2 linked regions of the Homo sapiens genome follow. The protein of the gene in region 1 purifies or fractionates together with the protein of each later gene. This does not show direct contact. Each region holds a gene or a part of one and is shown in the gene's direction. Other genes may lie near its edges.

What was found.
Region 2: the proteins of SCGB2A1 (region 1) and SLC27A2 purify together in Homo sapiens (co-immunoprecipitation; 2 studies listed by BioGRID and IntAct, with this or other methods). This does not show direct contact.

What each region holds. Positions count from the first base shown.
Region 1 is NC_000011.10:62,211,669-62,214,475, forward strand, and holds the end of SCGB2A1 (mammaglobin-B precursor), read left to right. Parts: intron 1-2,057; coding exon 2,058-2,102; 3' UTR 2,103-2,275; downstream 2,276-2,807. UniProt on the Homo sapiens protein: May bind androgens and other steroids, may also bind estramustine, a chemotherapeutic agent used for prostate cancer. May be under transcriptional regulation of steroid hormones.
Region 2 is NC_000015.10:50,177,853-50,185,217, forward strand, and holds the start of SLC27A2 (long-chain fatty acid transport protein 2), read left to right. Parts: upstream 1-4,343; 5' UTR 4,344-4,575; coding exon 4,576-5,053; intron 5,054-7,365. UniProt on the Homo sapiens protein: Mediates the import of long-chain fatty acids (LCFA) into the cell by facilitating their transport across cell membranes, playing an important role in hepatic fatty acid uptake.

The sequences.
Region 1 (2,807 bases):
GGATTACAGGTGTGAGCCACTGCTCCCGGCCTAAAATAAAGAATTTAAAATGCAAGTCCAAGCAACCAAGATTTGTTAGCATACATGACTGGAAGTCATGCACCACTTAATTAAGTGCCTCATGAAGTGGGAAGTGCAGATTATGGGTATGAAACAGCACGAGTGCTAGAATTGTTTAAAACAAAAGTCAGTGGTTATAACAAGGAGTATTTCTGTCTGTTTATAAAGATGTGTTGGTTACGAGTTTTGTTTTTTGTTTTTCGTTTTTTTCGAGATGGAGTTTAGCTCTTGTTGCTCAGGCTGGAGTGCAATGGCACGATCTCGGCTCACTACAATCTCCGGCTCCTGAGTTCAAGTGATTCTCCTGCCTCAGTCTTCGGAGTAGCTGGAATTACTGGCACACAACACCACAGCCTGCTAATTTTTGTATTTTAAGTAGAGATGGGGTTTCACCATGTTGGCCAGGCTGGTCTCAAACTCCTGACCTCAGGTGATCTGCCCGCTTCAGCCTCCCAAAGTGCTGGGATTACATTTTTTTTTTAAGAATTTATTTAATACCCTAAAATTTTATTTAAAACATTCCATAATAAAAAATGTAAAGATATATCAAATGCTCAAGGATAAAAATAAATATTAACTGCAATTTGGGATGGTTGAATCATTTTTTTCTTTAAAAACTCAGATTAGCCAGGTGCATCCCTCATACCTGTAATCCCAGCACTTTAGGAGGCCAAGGCGGGCAGATCACTTGAGGTCAGGAGTTCAAGACCAGCCTGGCCAACATGCTGAAACCCTGTCTCTACTAAAAATACAAAAATTAGCTAGGCGTGGTGGCGCACACCTGTAATTCCAGCTGCTTGGGTGGCTGAGGCAGAAGAATTACTTGAAGCCAGGAGGCAGAGATTGCAGTGAGCCAAGATAGTGCCACCGCACTCCAGCCTGGGCAACAGAGTAAGACTCCATCTCAAAAACAAACAAACAAACAAAAATCCTAAACAAACCAAAAAAACCCCTCAGATTAATCATTCATATTGTAAAACTCCAGTGTTTCTTGTTTCCGTTTTTTTGTCTTTGTTTTTGTTTTTGAGACAGAGTCTTGCTCTTTTGCCCAGGCTGGAATGCAGTGGTACAATCACAGCTCACTGCAGCCTCCATCTCCTGGGCTCAAGTGATCCTCCCGCTTCAGCCTCCTGAGTAGCTGCGACTACAGGTGCACACTAACACACCTGGCATATATATACATATATATACACACACACATATATACACACATATGTACACACATATGTACACATATGTACACATATATGTGCACATATACATGCATATATGTACACATATATGCACATATATACATATATACACACATATATACATATATACACATATATACACATATATACATATATACACATATATACACATATATATATATATATTTTTTTTTTTGTAGAGATGGCATTTTGTCATATTGTCCAGGCTGGTTTAAACTCCTGGGGTCAAGCAATCTGCCCTCCTTGGCTTCCCAAAGTGCTGGGATTACAGGCATGAGCCATCCCACCCAGCCCAGCTCCAATATTTCATAGGCCTCAAAGGTAATGGTGAAGAGTCTCAGACTGTTACAACATTTCTACCTTTTATGCCTGTGCAGCAACTCAAAACCATCACATTCTTGTATCTGAGCTGAGATTTTTTAATAATTCTGTGTTGTAAAAGTGGTATCAGAAACAGTCCAAATGATCAGGTCTTCAACAAATAGTATATGCAGCATATTTATTGGATAAGTTATTTCAAAGGATAGAATTTTTGGAGAAAAAAAGTATTACATGGATCACTGGTAGGGAAGAGATCCTACAACCCTGGCCCCTGTTTGGCATTATGAAGTGTCTCCTAGATAACAGAATAAATGGAGAGGGGATGCTGGCTTTGCTTCCACTGCAAATCCTCCTGAGAGTTAGCTGTTTGTGGACAAATGCAAGAAAACAAGAAGACAAGTTTTAATATTTGATTTAATAAGTGAAATTTGCAAACCTAAGTGACCTGCTTTTGTTTTCCAGCATACAGTGTACGACAGCATTTGGTGTAATATGAAGAGTAATTAACTTTACCCAAGGCGTTTGGCTCAGAGGGCTACAGACTATGGCCAGAACTCATCTGTTGATTGCTAGAAACCACTTTTCTTTCTTGTGTTGTCTTTTTATGTGGAAACTGCTAGACAACTGTTGAAACCTCAAATTCATTTCCATTTCAATAAACTAACTGCAAATCACTAAAATTCTTTCTTGTTCTTCTATAAAAAAAGAAGCTTTCCAGGCTGCACAGTCAGGCTGTAGGTTGCAGACAGAGACAAGCCTCGAAGGAGTTGAGTGAGGGTCCGAGGTTTCTGGGAAATACTTTATTTCTCATCATCTCGAGCCCAAGAGTTGGACTTCTCTCTCTCTGCAGAACAAAGTATTAGCTCTTGTTGCTTAGCTAATTTTTCTCTGAAGAGTGTTTCACTCTCCACATCCCACTACCTCCCTAAGCCACTTTCTCTGGGGACCTCACACTCTTGGAGTCATGCTCAGAAGCCCTGATTTTACCCCAGTCCCATCCATGCTGAGCCCTGCTGGTTATGCCAGGCTCCTCTGGGTTGTCTTTGGGCCTCCCCAACGTGTGCAGGGCCCAGACCAGAGCCAGCCAGGGAGGGGAGGCCTGCAAAGCAAGGTGGATCCTGTCTGGATTTTAAATTTTGAGTTTTATTTGTCGTTCATGGATGTTGGCATTAATTTTGAACTTTTAAAATATTGCATGAAAATATTACTTAC
Region 2 (7,365 bases), on another chromosome or scaffold:
AGAAATAGTGAACTACTTCATCTCCATAAAGTAGGAAGGGACGCCACCTGCTTTAAAAGAACATTTGAGATTGGGATTGGAAACTTTGAAGGGGGTAGGGAAGGTCTGGGACTGCCAATAGGAAGCCTTCTCTCAAATAGCAGAGATAGATGATAGGGATGAACGTCCTGACCAAGGCTAGAAGGTGTCAGTATGCACACCCAGTAATCCTGTCTTGCCCCTAAACTTCTCCTGCAATACCTAGAATAGGACAGAAGACAGTGGGCATTTGAGGTCATCTATACCTGGATAGAAAGTTTAAGGAAAAGAGGGGTCTAGGAGGCCACGTTGAAGTGACTGGCCAGGAAGGGACCGAAATCTTGATAGAGGAAATGAATAGGCTCAGTAATGTCAGAGAATGGGAGAAGTGGAATGAGGAGGCTTAACTAAGCCTATGGGGACGGAGAATCTCCATGTCTGAGATCTCAGTGCTGACAAAATCCTAAATTACATCAAAGTCCAAGATCTGGCTCTATTTCATATTTCCCTGTGGAATTTATGTTACTGAATAGACAAACTTGTATAAAAACAATTTCTATATGGTATAAAAACCCAGACAAAAGTTGCAGTTTTCTACATTCAAAAATATTTTTAATGTTTTTATTTTTATCTGTTTGTGAGAATTTGTAAGATTATTTTGTTTTGTTTTTCATATGAGATGGGGTCTCACTGTGTTGCCCAGTCCAGTCTTGAACTCCTGGCCTCAAGTGATCCTCCTGCCTCAGTCTCCCGAGTAGCTGGAATTACAGGTGCATGCCCCCACACTTGGATAATTTCTGTACTTTTTATGTGTTGGTGTAACATTGTCTTCGTCTTTTCTTGGAAAGGGCTATATGTTTATTGTTACTGTCTTTAAAATTGTGGTAAAATATGCATAACATAAAAATTAACTATTTTAACCATTTTTAAGTGTACAGTTCAGGTATACTTTTTTAGTGCCAAAAATGTCATTCTTCTATAAAATAACAAATATACTGTGATGGGGGAGGGGGTTGTTCTTACTAGAAAAATTAAGAAGTCGTTACTTATTTTGAGTCCCTAACTTGGTTTCGAAATATAACACGGGACTAAGAAATTCAGGAATCAAACAACTACTGCCCTAAAGGAGAGTTGAGATTTACAGGGTTAGGATGGTCAGGGGTGGAAAGTGGTAAGAACAAGCCAGTAGAAAGAGGAAGGTGCAGGGCATTTTTAGGAGTGTGCAGACCAGACTTGCTAAAAACAAAGTGCGCTTGAAAAGGAACAGTTAGAATTAAGTTTTGGTCCATTTTAAAATATTTAATACCTAATAATGTTTGGTTCATAGCAGAAACTCAATAAATATTTGTCAATTGAGTGTAGTGAAAGCTTGAGTGAGATTCAGAAGAGCCAGAAAATAAAGTTTAAATTTCATTTTATAGACCAGAGGTTCCCAAGAGATGTACCAAGAATGGGCAGCCAACGTGCTAAGCTATCGATCACCTTTCAAAGGAGTCAGGCAGAAGCCAGGGCATCTGGTCAACTCTAGGCCAGGTATGTTCTAGTATGCTGTACAAGTACAACTGTCTATAGATGTCATTGGTGGAAGACAATAGGAAGCAATGGGGAACCACTAAAGATAATTGAGCAGTGGAGATATAAGATGGCAGCAATATTTCCAGGAAGACTATTGCTGTGGTTTTAATGTTCATGTCCCCTACAAAATTCATATATTGAAATCCTAACCCTCAATGTGATGGTATTAGGAGGTAGAGCCTTTGGGGAGTAATTTGATCATAGGGCAGAGCCCTCATGAATGGGATTAGTGCCCTCATAAAACAGGCCCCAGAGAGGTAATTTGTCCCTTCTACCAAACAGTACACAGTGAGAAGGCACCATCTGTGAGAAAGTAGCCCTTCACCAAACACCACATCTGCTGGCACCTTGATCTTAGACTTGCCTCCAGAAGTCTGAGAAATAAATTTCTGTTGTTTATAAACTACCCAGCTTACAGTATTTTGTTATAGCAGCCCAAACAGACTAAGACATCTATTAACCTCGTGATAAAGCAAGAGCTGGATCCCAGGCTCAAAGCTGGAATCACTGGGACTCCCAAGGTATATATTATAGACATTTGAAAATTACTTCCCCAAATTTACTCTCCCTAACCCCACTTTTTAATAATACCGTAAAACGTTCCACAAAATGGCCTAGGTGAAATTGATTATACTCTCACCCCCATGGGTGAGCGCTGATTGGCTTAAAACAACTAGCACCTTTTTCCCCAGGACCCACAGACATTGGTTCAGAAATGGGCGCATAATCCAGTCAGGGATTTTTTTTTTTATGAGAACTCCTAAGAAAAAGATTCCTGTACTTCTCTCTGAAGTTGAGCCAGAAAGCATGTACCCCTAAGGGCTGTTGGCAGCCATCTTTGGACAAAAACCAGAGAGCCTGAATGAGAACAGAGGAGGTGCAGAGGAGAAATAGTGAAAGCAAAACTAGATCCAGGTGTCAGCATTTAAAATCCTTGATGTCTTAGCCCCGGACTCTCCAGTTACTACTTAAATTCCTGTTTCTGCTTCAGCTAGCTTGGGTCTTGTTTTCTTTTACTTGTAACTGAGGTTAAAGTGATCCTCAGAATAAGAGGGGAAAAAGTGGACCCTTGTGGTAATCTAGCACTCTGGGTAGACAGTAGCTGTTCAAGGAAAAGAGAAGAGGGGTGCAGGTGGCTACACAGAAGCGATTAGCCATCAAGGGACGAGGGTGGCATTGGGATGAAAAAGGAAGGGCTGGCTCTGAGCTTCACCATGAAAGAAGTGCACATGAGAATGGTTTCTGTCGGGCCCTCACTTTGGTTAATTCTACTGCTTTCTCCTCAGGGATGATGAAGGCCCCCAGCTCATCCCCAGGGAAATGATGCAACCAGGTAGCTGGATCAGAAATGAAAAAGTCAGGAAAAGGGAAAGGTTGCTTGCGCAGTTACTAGGGATACGAAAAGGAGGCTAAAAAACGGCAGGGGGTGGCCTGGAGGGAATGTGAAACATTTTTGTGTGTTTTACACACACCGAAAAAAAAAGAGGACATGGACAGAAACCTAGAGAATAGGAGGACAGCATAGTATAGTTACTAAGAATAAGCTAAGAGTTGGTTCCCCGGGACCAAACAGATACCATTTCCAAAACCCACGAATTACTTACCGGCTGTCTCAATTCACCTAAGCTTCCCTTTCTTGTCTGTAAATGAGCATGAAAGTGCCACCTGTATAAAATAACTCAGGCTCCCAAAATGTAACATAGGGAAGCTCCTAGCAGCGTGTCTGGGAGGAATAAGCATTATCTGTATTTATCGTATCAAATTAAGATAGAGGAACACAGGAGGACAGTAGAGGATGAAAATAAAACACTACTTAGATCCTGACCCTCCTCAGTGGCAAGTAGTGAGCATTCACTTCGTACAGAAGTAGCACTAAGGCAAATTAAAAGAAAGGTTCACATTTCCTCTAAAAGAAATGGTTTTTGAGTCATGCCAATACCACTTACTCAATGTCCTCTGTACTATACTATTCTCTGACAGAGCCACTTATTAAATGTGTGAACTGTGCTGACAACACTTGACAACTTTCAACATGAGGGAACAGCAGGATCACTTAACAGAACAAAATCGTAAAATAATGTCAAAGCTTGATTTCAGGTGGTGCGGTGTAGCACTGCTCTTCACGAAATCAGGACTCCCCCGACCAGGCAGGGCCGACTAGGTTAGAGTGTCCTGCCCTCACTCACCTGGCAGGGCTTGGGATGAGCTGGACGTGACTGCCACAGGCATTTCTGTTCAACCTTGAAGCCTTCGCTACAGGAGACCGCCTGGCAGTCGGGCTGGGAAGCAAATCTGAGAAACAAAGAGAGACCAGGCGGAAAGCCCTTGGGACCAGGAAGGAGAGATGAGATTCTGGTTTGGCAGTGGCACCTGGTACCCGCTATTAATAAATAATAGGACTGTCTGACATTTATAAGGCACTTTATCGGTAATAACAGTGTCATCTCCATAAGCCATTCTATTAGTGGTAACAAATAATAGCCCCACGCCTGCAATATCTCCTTTAATATTCCCAACGTCCGCTAAGCGCGTCTCATCACCATTTAAAGAAACCGTGGCTCCTAGAGGTAAAGTACTTCGGTCACAACGCGAGGAGGTCCAGACTTGACCCCAGACCTCCAGACTCGAGCTGGGAAGTGGCCGAGGCTCCTGGTGAGCCGCAGGGCAGCCTGCCCAGCCCCGGGAGGACCGCGTGGGAGGGCCGGGAGAGCAGGTGGCTGCCCCCCACAAGGGGGCGGGCTCAGCCGGCCAGTCCTGCCCGGAACCCCCGGCAACGCGCATACGACTACACCTGCTCCGGAGCCCGCGGCGGTACCTGCAGCGGAGGAGCTCTGTCTTCCCCTTCATCTCACGCGAGCCCGGCGTCCCGCCGCGTGCGCCCCGGCGCAGCCCGCCAGTCCGCCCGGAGCCCGCCCAGTCGCCGCGCTGCACGCCCGGGGTGAACCCTCTGCCCTCGCTGGGACAGAGGGCCCCGCAGCCGTCATGCTTTCCGCCATCTACACAGTCCTGGCGGGACTGCTGTTCCTGCCGCTCCTGGTGAACCTCTGCTGCCCATACTTCTTCCAGGACATAGGCTACTTCTTGAAGGTGGCCGCCGTGGGCCGGAGGGTGCGCAGCTACGGGAAGCGGCGGCCGGCGCGCACCATCCTGCGGGCGTTCCTGGAGAAAGCGCGCCAGACGCCACACAAGCCTTTTCTGCTCTTCCGCGACGAGACTCTCACCTACGCGCAGGTGGACCGGCGCAGCAATCAAGTGGCCCGGGCGCTGCACGACCACCTCGGCCTGCGCCAGGGAGACTGCGTGGCGCTCCTTATGGGTAACGAGCCGGCCTACGTGTGGCTGTGGCTGGGGCTGGTGAAGCTGGGCTGTGCCATGGCGTGCCTCAATTACAACATCCGCGCGAAGTCCCTGCTGCACTGCTTCCAGTGCTGCGGGGCGAAGGTGCTGCTGGTGTCGCCAGGTGAGCCCCGAGGATCGCCCTGCCCTGGCACCAGGGCTTCTCGGCGCCTTGACTGACGAGCCACAGCGTGGCATAAGGGGTTCGCAGAGGGAGGTTCAGATCGGAACTGTAGGTATAGAAAAAGGTTGGCAGTGTTTCCTTGAATCGCAAATAATGATCTTTTAGGACCACCTGTTGTGGAAGCTGATAATGTGCTAGGTTCTGTGTTAAGCACTCTACAGGCAGTGTGGTTTTTAATCCTCACAATGGGTAGGCTTTGTTATAGGACTTTTATAGATGAGACCACTGAGGTCCTGAGAGGTGAAGCCTCATGCCCAGCCATCTATCTCCAAATTCCAAGCTCTTAATCAATACTTATAACATCTGCATTAAAATGCAGAGGATCTTGAGTGCGAACTCTAGTGGATCCAGAGGGGCTCTTCTCACCTCTGCTGCTTGACTGGCTGTGTGATCATGGGAAAGTCACTTCTCCTCTCTGTCCCTTGGTTTGCTCCTCTCTAATGAGGCAGGCTTCAATGTTGCTTCCAGCTCTCAACTGCTGTTAGCATCCTGTCCCCTCCCTGCAGAACAAAGGTGACCCCACCTGATCCCCAGGGAGAAGATACTGGGGATCTGCTACAGGACCGTTGTGAGCCCCCACTGCATCTATCACAATAGTGACCCTTTCAGTTCTGTGGTTAGCTCCTGCCACATTTCAGCCAGACTTGAAACAGTAACTTAAGTGATGACAAGGTCAGGAAGTGACAGAGAACCTGTTACTCACAGGGCTGATGGCTTTCCCCTCCCAGAGAGCTTGTCTCTGCACTTGAATAAGGACCAAGGGTTCCTTCTCTCAGTCAGTAAGAAGAGGCCTACACAGGAGTGGGCTGAAAGACCTGGGTGACAGGGTAGGGGTCGAGGGAGCCGAGGAGCCTCAGCTTTCTAGAATGCATTTCTGTGCTAAGCCCTATAGTAGATGCTTTTATTACCCCGGGAGATAACATATCACTATCCCCACCACCACCACCACCATTATACAGTTGAGAAAACTGAGGCTTAAAATTCCAACCTAGCTCTATCCAACTTCGAAGCCATGCTCTTTCCTACATCTTTTTTTTTTTTTTTTTTGACAGTCTCGTTCTGTTGCCCAGGCTGGAGTGCAGTGGCGCTATTTCAGTTCACTGTAACCTCTGCCTCCCAGGCTCAAGCGATCCTCCCAGCTCAGCCTCTCAAGTAGCTGGGACCACAGGCATGCACCACCATGCCCAGCTAATTTTTTGTTATTTTTGGTAGAAACAGGGTTTCACCATGTTGCCCAGGCTGGTCTCAAACTCCTGAGATCAAGCGATCCACCCACCTTGGCCTCGCAAAGTGCTGGGATTACAGGTGTGAGCCACCACACCCAGCCTCTTTCCTACATCTTATTGTTTTCCTCTGCATGGATGTAAACTGTTAAGTGTGCTGGAAGGGATGAAGTGTCCACTTGCTCTACCCCTTCATTTCATAGCTGGGGAAACTGAGGCAAGCTAAGCGGGTTACAGAAAGATGAAAGGTTAATTCACTTGTGAGAAACCAGGAATCTTACACACCTGCTTCATGTGGCATGAAATAAATAATCCAAAAAATATAGGCTTTGTATAAAAGTTTAAAAGCAGAAAGCCAAATTTTAGGCTGGGCGCAGTGGCTCAAGCCTGTAATCCCAGCACTTTGGGAGGCCGAGGCAGGTGGATCACTTGAGGTTAGGAGTTCAAGACTAGCCTGGCCAACATAGCAAAAACCCCGTCTCGACTAAAAAAAAAAAAATTAGCTGGGCATGGTGGCGCGTGCCTGTAATCCCAACTACCTGGGAGGCTGAGGCAGGAGAATCACCTGAACCCAGGAGGCAGAGGTTTCAGTGAGCCGAGATCATGCCACTGCACTCCAGCCTGGGGGACAGAGTGAGACTCCATCTCAAAAAACAGAATAAAAAAAAGACAAGTTTAAAGGTGGCTAAATTATTTGGAAGAGATGGTCCTTTCAAGAAAATTCCCATTAATTTCTAGCTGCCTGAGAAAAGCGATAACTTCACTACTTTGTAACTAGAAGACTCTCCTAAGCCTATTACTTTACCAGCTTGCTTGGAGGGAAATTATTAACACAGTGATCTTTGTACCACTTCAGGAAGCATTTAAATTCTGTTTATCACTTTAGTATCCCAGGTCCCCTGAGAGGGAGGTCACAGGGTTTGGAGTTTTGTTGACAAAGAAGTTCAGGATTAAATGACCATAATACAGTTTGATTCTGCAATAAAGTCAGAATTACAACCAGATACCCTCTTCCCACCCAGCTAACAG